Linked DNA regions of Homo sapiens: all the other regions are linked to region 4. Evidence: fine-mapped expression QTL. A gene starts in region 4. Each other region holds a variant in brackets. All regions are shown on one strand. Distances are from middle to middle.

Region 1 (2,500 bases), 260 kb before region 4:
ATCTTTAAATCAAAGTCCTGCATAGAAAAAGAAAGCTGCTGGTAAGTGTTAAAGGAAAGGCTTGTTGCCAATAATATAAAACATGTTTATAAAATAATACCTTAGCATGTAGAAATAACAATGATAATGATGATATAACAGCCACACTGTTGAGAGCACACTCATTCGCTGAACACTATGCTAATTACATACAGTATTGCGTCCTAAGTGTCACAATCTGTAACACTAATACTATGGTCCCATTTCACAGCTGCACACCAAGGCTGACAGAGATGTGATAATTTGCCCAGAGTTATATAGCCAGAGAAGCATAACTAGAACCTGAACATAGCCCTCTGAATCTGAAGTAGATGCTGCTGAACTTCACTTGCATTTTTTTTACCAGCAGTTTTGATGCCATATGGAGAAATAGGTATAAATGAAATCTTTCAAAGCAATGAGCACTGAAAAGATTTTGGTGCCCATTGCAATGAGTAATTCAAATAATGAACTACTAAACCTTAAAATGCAGAACTTATATGTATGCTATGCTGACATTAAAATGGCTTGTTTATAGGTTTTCTGATTGCTGCATTCTGGATAAGATAAAGCAGTCATATCCTCTCTCCCCACTGCTTTGATAGGATGCTAAGCACATGTAAAGTTGTCGGAAATCATCTCAAACCTAAAACACCAAACTAAGTGGCAGGTCTGCTCAGCTAGTTGTAAATATGGGCCTAGCTTCACTTTATTGCACTTTGCAGATCTTGAGTTTTTGTTTTTGTTTTTAACAAATTGAAGGTCTATGGCAACCCTAAGCAAGTCTATCGGCACCATTTTTCCAACAACGTGCTCAATTCCTGTCTCTATCACATTTTGGTAATTCTCATAATATTTCAAAACTTTTATTGTTATTGTATGTTAGGGTGATTTGTGATCAATGCTCTTTGATATGTTACTACT[G/C]TAATTGTTTTGGGATGTCACAAAACTCACCCATATTAAGATGGTGAACTTGAAAAATGTGTGTGTTCTGACTATGCTACCAACCAGCCATTTCCCCTCCCTCTCTCTTTGGGCCTCCTTGTTCCCTGAGACACAAAAATATTGAAATTAGGCCAATTAATAACCCTACAATGGCCTACAAGTGTGCAAGTGAAAGGAAGAGTCACACGTCTCTCACTTTATTTATTTATTTAGAGACGGAGTCTCACACTGTCACCCTGGCTGGAGGGCAATGGTGCGATCTCGGCTCACTGCAACCTCCGCCTCCCAGGTTCAAGCGATTCTCCTGCCTCAGCCTCCTGAGTAGTTGGGATTACAGGTGCTCACCACCATGCCTGGCTAATTTTTTGTATTTTTAGTAGAGACAGGGTTTCACTATGTTGGCCAGGCTGGTCTCAAACACCCGACCTCAGGTGATCCACCCGCCTCGGCCTCCCAAAGTGCTGGGATTACAGGCGTAAGCCACCATGCCCGGCCGCATCTCTCTTTAAATCCAAGGCTAGAGATGATTAAGCTTAGTGAAGAAGGAATGTTGAAAGGCATGACAGGTTGAAAGCTATGCCTCTCATGCCAAACAGCCAAGTCATGAATGCAAAGGAAAAGTTCTTGAAGGAAGTTAAAAGTGTTACTCCAGTGAACACATGAATGATAAGAGGGAGAAACAGCTTTATTGCTGATTTGGAAAAGTTTTAGTGGTCTGCCTAGAAGAGCAAACCATCCACAACATTCCCCTTAAGCCAAAGCAGAGTAAGGCTTTTTCTTTTTTTTTTTTTTTGTGGGGGGACGGAGTCTCGCTCTGTTGCCCAGGCTGGAGTGCAGTGGCGTGATCTCTGCTCACTGCAAGTTCCGCCTCCCGGGTTCATGCCATTCTCCTGCCTCAGCCTCCCGAGTAGCTGGGACTACAGGCGCCAGCCACCACGCCTGGCTAAATTTTTTTTTTTTTTTTTTTTTTTTTAGTAGAGACGGGTTTTCATCGTGTTAGCCAGGATGGTCTCGATCTCCTGACCTCATGATCCGCCCACCTCGGCCGCCCAAAGTGTTGGGATTACAGGCGTGAGCCACCGCGCCTGGCCAAGGCTTTTTCAATTTTATGATGACAGAGAGAAATGTGGAAGCTACAGAAGAAAAGTTTGAACCTAGCAGAGGTTGGCTCATGAGGCTTTAAAAAAGAAGCCATTTCCATATCATAATAGCGCAAGGTGAAGCAGCAAGTACTGATCTAGAAGCTGCAGCAAGTTATCCATAAGATCATTGATGAGGTGGCTTTACAAAACAACAGACATGCAACGTAAATGAAATAGCCTTAGATTGGAAGAAGATGCCTTCTATGACTTTCATAGCTAGGGAACAGAAATCAATGACTGGTGTAAAGGTTTGGAAGGACAGGCTGACTCTCTTTTAAGAGGCTAATGCAGCTGGTGACTTGAAGTTGAAGCCAATGCTCATTTACCACTCCAAAAATCCTAGGACCCTTAAGAATTAACTTAAAAGCTGTATATTTAGCTTTAAAGCTAAATCT
Region 2 (2,500 bases), 20 kb before region 4:
TCCCAGCTACTCGGGAAGCTGATGCAGGAGAATTGCTTGAGCCTGGGAGACAGAGGTTGCAGTGGGCCAAGATAGGGCCACTGCACTCTAGCCTGGGTGAGACAGTGAGATTCTGTCTCAAAAAAAAAAAAAAAAAAAAAAAAAAAAAAAGCATGTGCCTGATAGATGACACCACAGAATTATATCCTTGTGAATCCTGTATACACAGGTTTATACTAAGGGATCAGAGTCCAGGAAAGCTGTTTTGTACCACAGGTGGTTGGCTGAGCATGGCATGCTGGTGCCTCATTCATTTGCAGACAGTTAGCAAGGAGGCTCTGGTCCCAAGGGCACAGTCTGTCCCTTCCTTCAATGGGGCAGCTGAAACACCAAAGAAGTCAAGGAGGGGACATCTTCTATTAGGAAGTTGCTAGAGAGTTCCGCTACAATTCTCTTCAATGAGTTCACTATCTCTCAGCCTGCTCCCCAAAAGGAGACAGTTTCAAAGAACATAAACTGCACCCGGCCAAGAACCGAGGCCTATCTTAGACAATACGATGCAGCTCAAGTTCCATAAAGCAGGCTTGTAGGGATATTACAGTTATGACCAGGAACCTACTTGTAGCTAAAGTGACAATCAAAGGCATGAGTTATTTCAAAGGTGCAAATCATCATCCGATTTTGGTAAATCTCTAATTTCACTCCTACTATTTCGAACCTCAAGGAGGGTAAAATATATAGAGATATGGATATATACCTTCTAAACTTACTTTTTCTATTCAACAGTCTCTGTGTTATTACAAAAAAATAAATAAGTCGGCCGGGCGCGGTGGCTCACGCCTGTAATCCCAGCACTTTGGGAGGCCGAGGCGGGCGGATCACGAGGTCAGGAGATTGAGACCATCCTGGCTAACACAGTGAAACTCCGTCTCTACTAAAAATAAAAAGAAAAAAAAATTAGCCGGGCATGGTGGCGGGCACCTGTAGTCCCAGCTACTCGGGAGACTGAAGCAGGAGAATGATGTGAACCTGGGAAGCGGAGCTTGCAATGAGCCAAGATCGCACCATTGCACTCCAGCCTGGGCGACAGAGCGAGACTCCATCTCACAAAAATAAATAAATAAATAAATCTAACTCTCCCTCTCTCTCT[C/A]TATATATATATGTATCTTCTAAACTTACTTTTTCTATTCAACATTCTCTGTGTTATTACAAAAAAATTAAGTAAATCTAACAATTCAGATCCAAAAGTTTTTCTGCACTAAAAGGCCACCATGACCAAAAGCCACTCATTCAACAAGTATTTCTTGGAGACCCACTATAAACTCAGCACTGGGTTAAGTGCTGGGAAACAGATTAAAAACAAATATACACCATCCCTGTTCTCATGAACCTAATTGTTATTCAAGGTTATAACTAACACAAGACTTAATCTGAGCCCAAGTCGAGTATAAAGTGTGAAATATCCAAATAACTGTCATTAAAATATATTTGGAGGAAAATAATGCAGAGAAAACATTTATCAGGCACATTTTTCCACCATGAAAGGAAATGCTATATACTTTGATCACAATATTTTTTTGTCTGTCACCCTAGGTCTGTATTTGAAAAGGAGATATAGAAAACTAAAAGTCCAGAATATACCATATCTTACCTTCTATTTGGGATCTAGAATTTCTAGACTAAAGAGGAGGCTACAAAAAGTTAATCAAATATGATATTTACTAAGCACCTATCAAGCAACCTACCACCTTGGAGGTGGACTCTGGGATACAGAGGAGAATGAATCAGCTTTACCCCTGAAAGTACAGAAACCTAGACAGTTAAAAACCAAATAATTATAATGCAAGGTAGAATGAGTTAAGGTCCCAAATGGGATTCAAGGGCTACAGCCACTGACTTACTGCCCCTGTCTAAATTCCAGAATTTTCCAAGGCCCTGAAAGACATAAGGAGGACGATCCAAGCCTGAATGCCTGGACCCCTAAAATTATACAGGGCAAGAGAATACCGGGACTAGGGGGACTTTCGAAAGTCCCTCCGCACGTGTTGGAAATCAACTCTTAGATTACCATCTCACCTGCCGGTGTGGACAGAAAAACGTGTAATACAAGCACCTGATGATGAGGCTGGTGATAACCAGGGAATGCCCTAGGCTGAAGGGCAGGCCAAATCACTGCTGATTTATTCTCTGCTATCTGAAAAATCACTAGGCCATTTGTAAAACCCCCAAGGGGGACTAAAATGACAGGCTTCAAATGACAGTTCTTACACCATGTCCTGAATAGGAGCAAACTGAGAAAGCTCCCAGGCCACACCATGCCTGGGAGTTCCAAAAGTGAGTATCTTATACTTTCACAGACATGTCCCAAAAATCCAATTAATTCATCTCATCTAATTAAAGGAGTTCATTGGAAATGCAATATGGTATTTTTATCGTGCTGCTGCTTGAATCTCCAAGTCAGTGAACTAGAAGAAAGAAATTTTTATTTTGTGGAGAAGATACAAGAAAACTTTGGGAAAAG
Region 3 (2,500 bases), 250 kb before region 4:
GTGAAATGACTCAGAAAGAGAAAGCCAAAAACTGCATGTTCTCACTCAGAAGTGGGAGCTCAACAATGGGTACACATGGACATACAGAGTGAAAGAACACATACTGGAGACTCCTCAAGGTGGGAGGGTGGAAGGGGGATGAGAGAAGAAGAAATCTACCTATTGGGTACAATGTCCACTATTCAGATGATGGGCAAACTGAAAGCCCAGCCTTCGCCACTATGCAGTATGTCCATGTCAGACAACTGCACTTGTGCCCCCTAAATCTATTTCAAATAATTGGTGATTCAGTATGTCCTTTGTAAAGGAAAGAGTATCTATTACATAGATAATCTTTGCCAGGGACTATCTGCGGTTGCAAATTGGAGAATCACAAGCAGTATCCTTCTGGCAGATATATTTGGTTTAGTCCCTGTTGAATCTAAACATTTTTCTTAAATTAATTGCCAACATTTTCAAATCATGAGATTTCATGCCAAAATCCGGATTTCAGGCATCTCATGAAAAATGGGAAGATTTGGCAGCACTGGACCTGCTGTACTCCCTCACGGCAAATTAGCAGAAGCTGAGCTGGCTTGATTCATTTATTACATCACTTACCTGGCCCCTGTAGGCATCTGAGTTAGTAACCCCTGGTCTACAGGTAAAGGGGCTAAAGGTCAGATACAACTCATCTCAGATGCTGGAAGCAGCTTTCTTAGTCGAAATAAGCAGCTGTCATTAGTCCAAATAGGGACGAACGATTTGACTTTAATATGAAATGTTTTATGTGGGCTATAAAATTATCCAAACTCGACACAGGACATTTTGAGCTTATTTCCAAATCATCTGGCCTTCATCTACCCACTGGAACTATTACTCTGCTGGGTCCTCATGGAAACATATCTTTCAGCCCTAACAATGAGACTACAGACATCTACGTCCCCAACACAACAGCTAAAAAGCAGTAGAATGTCAGAAAGGCTATCCACTTAGCCCTTGGCTGACAGGCCCCACTGAGCATCCTTTGCGAAGTCCATTTACTAGCTAATTCATAATTTACACAAGGCATTCAGACATAGCAGCTAAGATATAAAACATTTATCAACACAGGGACTAGTTTGTTATTTTAAAATAATTATGTTTAAGTAAGCCAATAAAGTCTATCTTCTCCAATTTACTTATTGAGCTTTATGAGGCAATTTAAGTCCCGATTTTGGGGGGTATGTATGAAAGGAGAGCATGGAAATGCCATTTGCTCCCTGAAGTTTTTAT[CTTTTTTTTTTTTT/C]TTTTTTTTTTTGAGATAGAGTCTTGCTCTGTCACCCAGGCTGGAGGGCAGTGGCATGATCTTGGCTCACTGCAACCTCTGCCTCCCAGGTTCAAGTTTTTCTTGCACCTCAGCCTCCTGAGTAGCTGGGATTACAGATACGTGCCACCACACCCAGCTAATTTTTGTATTTTTTAGTAGAGATGGGGTTTTACCATGCTGGCCAGGCTGGCCTTGAACTCCTGACCTTAAGTGATCCACCCACCTCAGCCTCCCAGAGTGCTGAGATTAGAGATGTGAGCCACTGCACCCGGCCTTGAAGTTTTTGTCTTAAAAACCCAGATCCTCAAGAGAAGACCAAAAAATGGTTGTGGTGCTCATATCTCTGAGACATCTTGCAGAGAGGTAATCCCTAAATGATGCAAATCTGGTGAACATAATGCACACAGGGGACAAACCAAACGGTGAAAACTGATGTTAAACTATAAATTTTAAGCCACGGACATTAGTGTGAAACTTTACAGCTTCAAACTTTCAAAACCCACACAAAAGAATTTGTACGACACTGATGAAAATTTAGACACTAGAGATGCTCAATCATGCGCTCTGTAAGCAAATCACACTTCATGGTTAATTTTGTTGCCAGCAGGATAATAAAGTGTGATACAAACTCTAGCACAGTCTCAGCTGCTGTTAAAGAGTCTGAATGGACAGGGCATTACAATCATTAAGAATGCAGCCACGCAATTCAACCAGTAGATGGGGCACATCCACATGGCAAGCGTCCTCACTGAACCAGCCAGGTGGGAAAGAATAGGCCCTGCTTCCTGCTCTATAGCCCCCTACCAAAGAGTTACAGAGATAGCCAAATGCAGAAGGTGAGGCTGCACCTCATCTCTAAAAGAAGTATTTGATTATTTCCTTAACTTCTCTTTCATTCCTATGACAATGTAAATAAAACGGGTGGAGACTGGTGGGATTAGGAGGAATCAGGGTTGACCACCTCAGAAGGGAGAAATATATTGAATCCACTCTATAAAAGCACCTCCTTCAGTAGTCAGTGAGTCGCTTATTCTTACTGGGGACCAGTGTTTACTGAGTGCTCATTCCATCCAGGCACTGCTGGAATTGGATGTTAGATCTACAAAGGGGAATTAGACAGGAATGGGATGTGGTCCGTGGAGACTGTGGCTTACTGACACTGAAGTCCTGCAAATGCCAGTCACCTGTGGCTACAAATCATGACAGGGAACT
Region 4 (2,756 bases):
TCTCAAATTGTGCACATACTGAGGTGACAACTGGTCTCTGTCTAAAGTATCCAGACTCAGGACAAAGAGGCACGCCTGGCTGGGGTCCGAGGTGTAGAACCTGGAGCCCTCGATGGCCGCTAGAATGTTTTGGTAACTTTCGGCGATTTTCTCCCCTTTTTGCTGTGGGTATACGTAGACTTTGAAGCCGTTTTTCTTGCAAAGGGTGAAATCGAAGCAGGACTCCATGCGGCACTTCTTGCCTTTGTAGATGCTGGAGTTGGCATCTCGCTTCTGCCGGGGGGAAATGTGCACGCTGGAATCCTCGTTTTCCAATTGATCCCAAGGAACGAAGGGGCGCAGAGCGTCCGGGAAGCGGGGCCAGAAATGATCCGGACTGGGGTGGTGCAAGCCATTCCTACCGCTGTGTTCTTCTCTCCGGCTGTGGCTCCTCGATGCCCTAAACTGCAAGCCTCCGAAATAAAACAAAAGGGCGAGACAAGAGCCAGCTGAGAGCAGGATGAAATAGCGTTTTTTGGCCTGCATGTGTCCTGCCTGGGTCAAGAGGATTGTAAATAAACACAAGAATCACCCAAGTTTCCCAATCAACACTTTCAGCTCCAGTCCGCCATCTTCCCGCCTGTAAAGACTTCAAACTCTCCGCTCCCACCTTCTCTGGATGCCTTTCCCCAAGCCGTGGACTGATCCAGCGCATGTGGGCGATTTCTTTAACTTTCTCCCCTTCGGTCTTTCATCTTTGGGTTGCACAATGCACGGGAGAGAGCGGGGCTGAATATCTCGCACCCAGGGCGGGCGAGCAGCGGACTGTAATTTTCTTGCATGCAACAAGACGGAGGAAAAGAAAGAGAGAGGGGAGAAAAAAAAAGCTCCCGATACCCAATCAATGGCAAGACGAAGTGATTGCCTTGCCTCTCGGATTCCTCTCGGCAGCGTGGAAAATGAGCCCCGGGAAGGCAACTTCAACTCATCCACCACTCTCCGTGCAGAGCACTCCGGTTCCAACAAGTCAGCCGATCCCGGGTTCAGCCGGCTAGTGCATCTTGCAGCTGGGGCGCCGTAACCTCACAAATCCCTGCATCTCTCTTTATTCCCTTCTGCAGCGGCTCCAAGACTCCGGCGGTGTTTACTCCTGCGCTCGCGGGGCCGGCCCCCGGGACGCGCGGCGGCCCGGCTGGAGGCGGCGGCGGCGGCGGCGCTGGGTGGCGGCGGCGGCGCGTCCTCCCCGCGGGCAGTGCCGGCCCCGAGCAGCGCTTCGCAGGCCCCCGCGCGAACGCTGCCGACCGCCGCGTTCGGTCGCCGAATGTTACCCGGTTCTGAATGTTACACTTACACATTCCATTCCCGACACGACAGCGCTGACCTCATCCATCCACGCAGCCCGCGCTGCCATTGGCCGAGCGTCACGTCCGGGGGGGGCGGTGCTTCCGCTGCGCCCATTCATAACCCCCGGCCGCGGGCCGAGGCGCCGGCGCGGCGTTGGGGGCGTAGGGGGCGCAGGGAGCCGGGGCTCCCGGGTTGCAAGCTGCCGGCGGGCTGCCGGGCAGGTGGAGCGCGGGACGGCCCGGTGCGAGCCCCGCGGCCCCTCGGCGCGCCCAGGCCCGGATCTCGGCCTGCGCCGTGCCGGGGACCAGAGGCGCCTGCGGAAACGCGGCGGCCGGGGAAGGAGGCACCGGCAGGGGCCCCGTGCCGCGCGGCCCCGGGCGCCCTGGAGAATCTGGCCTCCTGGGCTGCCTGCCGGAACGCCTAGAGAAAGATGCTTTGAAGGAGGGAAGCAGGGAGGAAAGGAAGACTTCATAGAAAGCGACCGCCGATCCGAAAGCTGCCTCTCCCAGCCCTCCTTCCACTCTCCGAGACCCAGTATTTCAATTTTCTGCTAAGCATTAAAACAATCTCCCCTTACTCCTCCTCTACATAGCACATTTTTTTAAACCAAAGAAACACCCCAATGCCCAACAATAAAGAGGAATTATTACAATCAAGAGGAATTGTTGCAATTCTTCATGCCTGCCTCTGTGCTAAGAGTGTAAGACGGCTATCCTAAATCCTCATTATCTACTTAGGCCGCCTTGCCTGAGCCCCCTCTGTCTATTATGAAGAAAGCTTCCAAGAGATCCAATCACAGAGAAAAAATAAATTTTCTAATGGCTGCAGGGAAACCAGTTAATTTAAGCTTGCCCCAGTCCTCAAAGTGATGTTATTCTCTTGGTGGTGGTGGTGGTGGTGGTGGTGTTAAAGATATCTCTTAAGGACATATGACTGGTAGAATTGCCAACTGTCCCAGCTATAGAAGGAACACTTGCATCAGGAAAACTACCTTATGTACAATTAGTGCCAAATAGTTGGTCCTTCCCTCACTGACCTCCCACTCCTTGGCCCAAGCTCCTGCCACTCCCAGTGGAAGAACTTCATTAGATAACTCAGGTAACCGAGGAGCAGTCCCGCTAAAGATCCTCCAGGTCCACAAAGATGTGCTAGGCTCCCAAACAGTATCTCTGGTCAAAGTCAAACTCCCTGGCCTCAGATCCTGAACACTGCTTTACAGAAAACACCTCCCACCCTCTGGCCTAGCTAAAGTCTCAGGGCTCGGGCAAGCTAGACAGTTGCCTAGGGCAGCCGGCTGTTTAGTGATTGTTTATTATGGGAGTGACTGAGAGCTAGGAGCAGACACTTCCCGGCTTCCCTCAGGCTGCAAAAACCCCAGCGGGGTGTGGATGAAGGGCAGGGTTATAACAAGGCAGTATGAAATGATAGAGTGG

Alleles and levels. Positions count from the first base shown, and alleles are read on the strand shown. Sizes are in standard deviations (SD) of each study's normalised expression. Not every link is listed here.
For the expression in CD4 T cells of the gene that starts at base 1,305 in region 4, allele CTTTTTTTTTTTTT in region 3 goes with a lower level than allele C (large effect, 0.85 SD a copy in BLUEPRINT).

What was found.
Region 1: its variant is fine-mapped to the expression of EXT1 in whole blood (INTERVAL, PIP above 0.99).
Region 2: its variant is fine-mapped to the expression of EXT1 in whole blood (TOPMed, PIP above 0.99).
Region 3: its variant is fine-mapped to the expression of EXT1 in CD4 T cells (BLUEPRINT, PIP 0.95).

The regions. Positions count from the first base shown.
Region 1 is chr8:117,854,512-117,857,011 of GRCh38, forward strand. The region is part of intron 1 of EXT1 (exostosin glycosyltransferase 1); the gene reads right to left. Among named protein-coding and RNA genes, the nearest start is that of SNORD168, 65 kb to the right of the region's middle. The variant G/C (reference allele first, on the strand shown) is at 943.
Region 2 is chr8:118,090,660-118,093,159 of GRCh38, forward strand. All of the region lies in intron 1 of EXT1 (exostosin glycosyltransferase 1), which reads right to left. Among named protein-coding and RNA genes, the nearest start is that of EXT1, 20 kb to the right of the region's middle. The variant C/A (reference allele first, on the strand shown) is at 1,130.
Region 3 is chr8:117,860,234-117,862,733 of GRCh38, forward strand. All of the region lies in intron 1 of EXT1 (exostosin glycosyltransferase 1), which reads right to left. Among named protein-coding and RNA genes, the nearest start is that of SNORD168, 59 kb to the right of the region's middle. The variant CTTTTTTTTTTTTT/C (reference allele first, on the strand shown) is at 1,255.
Region 4 is chr8:118,110,522-118,113,277 of GRCh38, forward strand. It overlaps EXT1 (exostosin glycosyltransferase 1), which reads right to left and starts at 1,305. Exons shown (of 11, transcript NM_000127.3): 1 at 1-1,305. The coding sequence starts at 525. RefSeq lists silencers at 1,158-1,247, 1,348-1,727.